Linked DNA regions of Homo sapiens: region 2 is linked to region 1. Evidence: fine-mapped expression QTL. A gene starts in region 1. The other region holds a variant in brackets. All regions are shown on one strand. Distances are between the middles of the regions. Region 1 holds the start of HYCC2 (hyccin PI4KA lipid kinase complex subunit 2). Region 2 overlaps ORC2 (origin recognition complex subunit 2).

Region 1 (4,400 bases):
AAACTACTACAAGATGCCAAAACTGTATTGCAAATAATCAAACTTAAATCTGAATTGCATGTCAAGACAGTTAAAGGGCCGGGCTAAAAAACACACTTTCAAGGTCTATTTTAGGGCAAACAATTAAACTCCTTTACAATCATTGTTTCAAATTCCTTATAAACAGCTCCAATACTGAAATGTTTCATCAGAGAGAACTTCTATAACGTATAAACGATCATCTAACCACACTATATGCTAATTTGGACTAGTGTTTCTTTAGCTACTTGGTAATTTCCTACTCGATACTCAACTTACTGCATTCTACAATGACACCTACTGGCCATTCAAAATCAGCCATTAGTTCTCTAAGACAGCTCTAGTAGGCTGGTTACATAAGAAGAAACACACACACACACACACACACACACACACACACACACACACACACGCATAAAAGCAACACACACACACACACGCATAAAAGCAAAGATTTAACTGGTACTCAAAACACTACAGAATTCCACCTAAAATAGAACCAGAAATTTTCTTTGTGACTGAGATTGCATTATTCTTGGAAAAGGAGAAAAGACAAAGAACAAAACACCAAACATCAATAAAAATTTTTATCTAAAGCACTGACAAATGTCTCAGTACTGAGAACATCTGGGAACAAACAACTTTAATGATGCACCTCTTTCCCAATTAAATTTTTGAGAAAAAATGAAATTTTGATTTAGGTTCATATATAGGAATATAAATTACCATTAATAGAAAAAAATCACATCTTATAAAGTTTTTCTGACATGCAGTACCGAAATAAATTTAGGAAAATTGTAGAGTTGCTGACACTACATTAGACCTTATCTCCTAAGCTAAAGGCAATATTTCAAACACCTTACATTTTAGAAATTTATAACACTTCTTTTAAAATCATTTTCCAGTGCTGCTCTCAAAATTGTTTTTCAATGACCTACAAAATCAAGTTTTTATGTCGTTTGCCCTTCCATAACACATACTGAATAGAATTCCTATTTTAATTCTACATTTTATTGTGGAAACAATGAATTATAAAATTTTTTTAAATAAGATAATTTAGTTAATTATATCTATAAATATATTTTGCCTCTGTCCGAGAGGTTCAGAGTCCACTTTTTAAACCTAATAAATAATTCATAAGTAGCTTCTCAGACTTGCTTACAGAACAAACTACTTAAAAGTTGACTTTTTTCTGCCGGGCACGGTGGCTCACGCCTGTAATCCCAGCACTTTGGGAGGCCGAGGCGGGCGGATCATCTGACGTCCGGAGTTCGAGACCAGCCTGACCAACATGGAGAAACCCCGTATCTACTAAAAATACAAAATTAGTCGGGCGTGGTGGCGCATGCCTGTAATCCCAGCTACTCCGGAGGCTGGGGCAGGAGAATGGCTTGAACCCGGGAGGCGAAGGTTGCTGTGAGCCGAGATCGCGCCATTGCACTCCAGCCTGGGCAACAACAGCGAAACTCCGTCTCAAAAAAAAAAAAAGTTTATTTTTTTCCCCATATTCAGACCACCACCTTATTTGCACAGTCCCTAACTTCCACAATATCCTGGGGGGAGGAAGGGATCTACCAACTAATTTTCTAGTCATTTTCCAACTTACACTGAGCTCCTACTGTACATTTTTAAAGGATTCCCCACTTTTCTGAAGATCTTTAAAAAATGTTGTCAGCCTTGACCCTCAAATAAATTCACGAACTACAAAACATGAACCTGGCCACATTCATCGCAAACTAGTATCTGTCAAGTCCATAATTGGGATAAGCTCTTCGTGACTACTCTATCCTCCATGCTACCACCCTTCGCCTAGAGAACCTGCCAATGTAAATGGCACTCAAGCCAATGAAAAAAGTGTTCTAACACATTAATAGGTTGCAAGACCTCCTCTCCCAGGAGGGACAACCTAGTTGTTTGGGTAAATAACAGCCAAAGATTACATAATGTACAGCAATAATGAGTGTTCAGAATCTGACCGCCAGTAAATATTTTTCTTCTCCGCTCCCCCTCACCACCCCCAGGAAATGGCCCTAAGAAGCAATCACTGGGATTTCTCTTAACTGTCTTCAATGCCGTGTCCTTTTCTCGCCTGGGGCTTTGTGCAAAGAATCCCTTCAGCCCTCACGACACCGCCTTGCTCCCGCCTCTCCTCCCTCTCTGCTGGCGCCACCGCAGCCCCCACGCCCTAGGTGGGCCCCCACGTCGCCCCACAAGGCTCGGCTTCCACCCGCCTCGGCTGCCGCCTTCTCCTCCTCACGACCCTCCCAAGATGCTACCTGGTTTACGAGAGGTTCCGGGACCACCAACACACCGGCTACCGCCTTTCCAGACCACCCTCGCCAGCTCCCGTCTGTAGTTTCCGCGGCCGAAGGAGAAGAAAACCCCTCTTCATCTAGCACTTTGCCTCCCCCAAAGACAGCACCGCCGCCTACCTGTCACCCTGCTGTCTCCGGCTTCCTACCGCCGCCGCCTCCCGCAGCAGCCTGCCAACTGCAGCGCAACAACCAACCCTCTCATTGGGTGAGAACACGCTCTCAACAACAGCCTCCCTTATTGGCTGCAGTATGCCGGCAGCCCCGCCCTGTGTGCGGTGTCTAAGGATTCCGTCCCCAAGCAAGGACAACATATTATCTTCCCCGCCCTTCTCTTTTCTACAGTATCTGTTACCTCAGTCAGATTGAGGATGCACATATACTGGGAAAATAATCGACTTCCAGCGTCCCTCATGTAGTCTCTACCTGATTCAGGAATCTCTAACCCAGTATCGGAACGTTAAGCGGCTTCTCCGCTTTCCTGCCGTGAGAAACTCGAGGTGACAACCTCCGTTTCCGGTTGGCTCCGGTTGCAGAGTTGAGTGTCCTGAGAGGTCAGATTGCTGTCAGGTAAATTAGGGAGTTGGTGGGAGGCCCGTTGATTAGGATTAAGAGCTAGACTCTATTCTGGGGAGTGCAGAAAAGGAGAGACTAAATGGAGAAGGATGGGAGGCTGGGAGGGAGATCAAAGAACTAGCAGGCGAGAACTAATGAAGTCCTAGTTTAGAGTTGGGGTAGGAAGAGGTGGTTGGAGGATTCAGTGATCATTACTGTAGTTGTTAAATCCAGGTGCTTGTTCCCGCTTCTGCCACACGCAAAATTGTCTTTGTTTGCCTTTGGATCGCAAAGGCAGAAGAACAGCATCACTAAAAGTAATAACAGTTCATTTGTTTTTTATGTTCTAATATTCATATAATCACAGTTTTTAATACGAGGAAGTTAAGATATATACTTGATAGTCTTCGGTAAACTAAAATTGCATGTAGTGGAAGTAGCATTATCTTCTTATTTCTTTCTTAGGGAAAGGATACCAGCACATTTTCTTAGAGCCAGCTTCCTTTAGTGGAGGTTGATCTTCATGAGACTTTTAGATTCACTTCAGACATAGATAGCTTTTAAAATTTTTGGTTGCATGTTTTTTCTTTATTTAACTAATTTCCTTACTGTTATTATTTGAGCTGCTCTGAAACGGAAATAACCACCATTTTTCAGTCCTCAGCACAATTTAAGTCAATTTTTCTATTTTTATTTTTTATTGTCAAGTATATATACAGAAGGGTGTATAAAACATACATTTTAAAAAATTATAACTAACAGAAGCAGACACTCCTGTATCCACCTCTTAGATTAGAAAATAAAGCATTGCCAATAACTTAGAACATGCAGTCTTAACAGGGGTGATTTTACATTTCAAGGGGTTGAAAATTGGTGGGGCCGGGGTCGGAATCTTAGTTACTACAATGATTTGTGTCCCTCCAAAGGGCCACAGTATATAAACAGTTATACAGTATATATGTAGTGTTAAATTTTCATGGCGGGGGGTGTGATTAGGAATAAAATGTCTAGAAAGGTTCCTTACAGGGACAATAGTTAAAAATTGGTTGAAAAACACTGCCTTAGAATCTCCCAGTATGTTTCTGTGATTCCATCTCCTCCACCAAGAGGTAACCATTATCCTGACTTGTGCTAAGCACTCACTTGTTTTACTTTAATTTTTCCGTCTATGATGAATTCCTAAAAAATGAATTGTTAGGCATTTCAATCTATATAAATGGGTTCAGAGTGCATGTGTATTTTTTTCTGACTCACCCCTTGCTCATTATCCATATTTGTGGAGATTCAATCACACTTTTGCATGTAGTTTTTTGTTGTATAATATTCTACAGTGTGACTATACCATAATCCCTTCTATTGTTATTGGACATTTGGGTTGTTTACAGTTGGGAGAGAGAATAAACAATGTGGCTATAAAGGTTCTTTTAAAAACATATTTCTTAGGCTGGGCACGGTGGCTCACGCCTGTAATCCCAACACTTTGGGTGGCCGAGGCAGGCGGATAATGAGGTCCAG
Region 2 (4,400 bases), 150 kb before region 1:
TTCAAGCGATTTTCATGCCTCAGACTCCTGAGTAGTTGCGATTACAGGTGGACACCACCACGCCCAGCTAATTTTTTATATTTTTAGTAGACACAACGTTTTACCATGTTGGCCAGGCTGGTCCTGAACTCCTGGCGTCAAGTGATCCGCCCACTTCAGCCTCCCAAAGTGCTAGGATTATAGGAGTGAGCCACCGCATCCGGCCCTCAATGACTACTTTTTAACTAGGTACTACTACTAACTCCAGAGCTGAATTTTGGTTAAAATTTTTATTCAATCACATACCAAGTAAAGTCTAAATGATACTGGAGTTTGCAGAATCAAGCAAAATTTCAAAATAGTTTAAATAAGAAAATGCTGAGGCTAGCACACAGACATTTAGGCATGCCAAACTAAAAAATACTTGCATTAGACTGGGCATGGTGGCTCATGCCTGTAATCCCAGCACTTTGGGAGGTCAAGGTGGGTGGATCACTTGAGGTCAAGAGTTCAAGACCAGCCTGCCCAACATGGTGAAACTCCATCTCTACTAAAAATACAAAAATTAGCCAGGTGTGGTGGTGCATGCCTCTAGTCCCCGCTACTTGTGGGATGCTGAGGCATGAAAATTCCTTAAACCCCAGAGAGGGAGGTTGCAGTGAGCCGAGATCTTGCCACTGCACTCCAGCCTTGGCGACACCATGAGTCTCCATCTCAAAAAAAAAACTTGCATCAGCGTAGCCAGTGCCATATTTAACGTTTTGAGTTCTCACACTGCATGGACCCTCAACTTTACACACAGCAACTTCCAACAGTCCTTCAGCAGTTAAGGACTTTTATTATTAGTAATAACAAAACAGAATGAAGACTTTGTCCCCAATTCCATCAAAAAATTTCATTAGATAACCATTTAATGCCTATTTCAATTTTTTTATTTTATTTTATTTTATTTGAGACGGAGTCTCGCTCTGTCGCCCAGGCTGGAGTGCAGTGGTGCGATCTCGGCTCACTGCAAGCTCCGCCTCCTGGGTTCACGCCATTCTCCTGCCTCTGCCTCCTGAGCAGCTGGGACCTCAGGTGCCCGCCACCACGCCCGGCTAATTTTTTAGTAGAGATGGGATTTCACCATGTTAGCCAGGATGGTCTTGATCTCCTGACCTCGTGATCTGCCCGCCTTGGCCTCACAAAGTGCTGGGATTACAGGTGTGAGCCACTGTGCCCCACCTTTTTTTTTTTTTTTTTTTGAGACAGAGTCTCACTCTGTTGCACAGGCTGGAGTGCAGTGGTGTGATCTTAGCTCAATGCAACCTTTACCTCCTGGGTTCAAGCGATTCTCCCTCCTCAGCCTCCCAAGTAGTTGGGATTACAGGCATGCACCACCATGCCCAGCTGATTTTTTAATTTTTAGTAGAGATGCGGTTTCACCATGTTGGCCAGGCTGGTCTCGAACTCCTGACCTCAAACGATCTGCCTGCTTCAGCCTCTCAAAGTGCTGAGATTACAAGCATGAGCCACCGCGCCCAGCCTGCATATTCCAATATTAATGCAAGGCTTTATTTTTACTTTTTGTAGAGATGGGGTCTACGTTGCCCAGGTTCGTCTCAAACTCCTGGCCTCATGCAATCTTCCCTCCTCAGGCTCCCAAAGTAGTAGAATTATAGGGGTGAGCCACTATGCCTGGCCGAGTTGAATGCTAATCTCATCTTCAGTGTTCAAATCAGCTTTACAGAGTAACAACATTCATTAAAATTAGCATTTGAGGGTTAACATTTGAGTCTTGTGGTGATGGTACAGCTGAGTGTATACATGGAGGTGGCAGTCATACAAGGCTACAAGTGACAAAACTGCACAGAACTTACACACACGAGTGCAGCATGTATAATAGTGAAATCCAAATATGGATGGGATTATAACAATGTCAATTTCTTGGTTCTGATACTGTACTGTGTTTATATGAGATGGTGGTGGTTGGTGGAAGTTGGTGCTTTGGGAGGAGGGTACATGAGACTTCCCTGCATGTATTTTTGTAGCTTCTTCTGAATCTATAATCATCTCACAACAAAAAGTTAATCCCTCCACCACAAACACACAGGTAAAAGAAAAATAAATGGAAAATAAATTGCT[A/AG]GGGGGGGTTAAAAAAAAAAAAGATATCCCCAAAGTCCCTGTGTACACTCTCCTCTATCTATTCCCCTTTATTCTTCTCCAGGGTTGGTACCTAATTTTTTTTTATTATTTTTAGTACCTAAAAAGACCTAATTCCATGCACATTTTAAACTTTTATTCATACTGATATATACATTTGAATGCTATATATTTTATATGGTTTTATTTCTACAACAAACATCTGTTCAGTTCAGCATTTGTCCTAAACGAAAATATCTGGTTTGGACAATATATATCGTCACACTACTATCATCCCATATAAGTCAATATCCTGGCTGCCAATGCTGCTTCTAAACCAAGAATGCAGCTGTGCTGTGGCTTCAACTCTGCTCACTGATTTATCATTCTGTTGTATTGAGATGTTTGTATTTTGAGCCAGGGTATTTATTTTTAAATTCTGTCTATTATGCTGTGTGTTTGGAACAAGAGGGGATGAAAGGAAAGAGTGAGAAGTATTATGCCATCTTGACCACAAGTGTCCCTTCATTGCTCTTTAAAAACAAAAAAGAAATTGTCTCTGCTAGACTTGCTTGTTCCCTCTTTTTTTCTTTTTTCTTCTTTCTTTTTTTTTTTTTGAGACAGAGGCTCACTCTGTCACCCAGGCTGGAGTGCAGTGGCGTGATCTTGGCTTACTGCAACCTCCGCCTCCTGGGTTCAAGCGATTCTCCCACTTCAGCCTCCCAAGTAGCTGGGATTACAGGTGTGTGCCACCAAGTCCGGCTAATTTTTGTGTTTTTAGTAGAGACAGGGTTTCAGCATGTTGACCAGGATAGTCTCGAACTCCTGACTTCAAGTGATCCACCCGCTTCGGCCTCCCAAAGTGCTGGGATTACAGGTGTGAGCTACCACACCCAGCTGACTGTTTATTCTTTAGGAAACTAAATTTTCTTTCAAATTTAAAACAAAAAAATTCATTTACATTTTGACTAATTTATAGATCTAATACCTGTTTTTCTGGAGACAGGGTCTTGCTCTATCACCCAGGCTGGAGTGCAGTGGCGCAATCTCGGCTCCCTTCAGCCTCCTCAGCTGAGACTATGGGTGTACACCACCACACTCAATTAATTTTTAAAATTTTTTGTAGAGATGTAGTCTCCCTATGTTGCCCAGGCTGGTCTCAAGGTCCCAGCTGGAGCAATCCTCCTGCCTTAGCTTCGCATAGTGTTGGGATTACAGGCTTGAGCCACTGTGCCTGGCAAGTCTAACACATTTCTAACTTGGAAAGAATTGCTACTCTTATAATATTTAATCTACCCACCCAAGAACACAATATTTCTTTTCATCTATCCAGCTCTTAATTATCTATTCTCAGCAAGGTTTGTTATTTTTCAACACTTCATCTTGTTAAATATAATTCTATAATTTTATGCTTTTGTCAGGGGGTAAAGTTTGTTACTAAAAGCTTCTTTCAACAGGCTAATTATGCAATTTCTTTATTATTTTTTTGAGACAGAGATTGCTCTGTCACGCAGGCTGGAGTGCAGTGGTGCAATCTCAGCTCACTGCAACCTCTGCCTCCTGGGTTCAAGCAATTCTCCGGCCTCAGCCTCTTGAGTAGCTGAGACTACAGGTGCGTGCCACCACACCTGGCTAATTTTTGTATTTTTGGTAGAGATGGGGTTTCCCCATGTCGGCCAGGCTGGTCTCGAACTCCTGACCTCAAGTGACCCACCTGCCTTGGCCTCCCAAAGTGCTGGTATTACAGGTGTAGGCCACTGCGTCCGGCTAATTATGCAATTTATTTTTTGCTGGCTTATGCTATAACCAGCTTGCATTTATTAATTCAGATATGCCTCTAGGTTAGGCTGCTGTAAGGGCTTGACTGGAGACATTATACAGTGATGTTTAAGAGCATGAGTTTTGGAGCTGGCATATCTGGATCAAAGTCTTTGTGCCACTGACTATCCACCTTAGTTAGGATCAAATGAAGTAATGCATATAAAGTACTCACTGTTTGGATCAGAATGTTCAATATGTAATGAAAAATAACCATAAAATTTAAGTAAAAGTCATGAAAAGTCTGCTTTTTCTCCATTATGACCAGTCAGGTGCTCATATTCAGAAATATCAAAGAAATAAAAAGTTGGTATTCTCGCTTTATTACTGGGCAATTTGATAGACTACTGTTGACTTGTCTGCCTACTCCATAATCCAGTACTGGTAACTATTATTACTATAATTTCACTTAATCCTTCAACTAACTAGGGACTTCAGTATCCCCATTAAAACCTAGTAGTACATATCTTAAAATGTATAGT

The links. PIP is the estimated chance that this variant, and not a neighbour inherited with it, causes the effect.
Region 2: its variant is the best candidate, but not a certain one, in a credible set for the expression of HYCC2 in whole blood (INTERVAL, PIP 0.55).

What each region holds. Positions count from the first base shown.
Region 1 is chr2:201,069,160-201,073,559 of GRCh38, forward strand. HYCC2 (hyccin PI4KA lipid kinase complex subunit 2) reads right to left here and starts at 2,512. Exons shown (of 13, transcript NM_001321623.1): 1 at 2,451-2,512. NDUFB3 (NADH:ubiquinone oxidoreductase subunit B3) reads left to right here and starts at 2,842. Exons shown (of 3, transcript NM_002491.3): 1 at 2,842-2,900. RefSeq lists enhancers at 1,985-2,124, 2,115-2,740, 2,225-2,494, 2,515-2,604, 2,741-3,364.
Region 2 is chr2:200,915,790-200,920,189 of GRCh38, forward strand. The region is part of intron 15 of ORC2 (origin recognition complex subunit 2); the gene reads right to left. Among named protein-coding and RNA genes, the nearest start is that of NIF3L1, 29 kb to the left of the region's middle. The variant A/AG (reference allele first, on the strand shown) is at 2,104.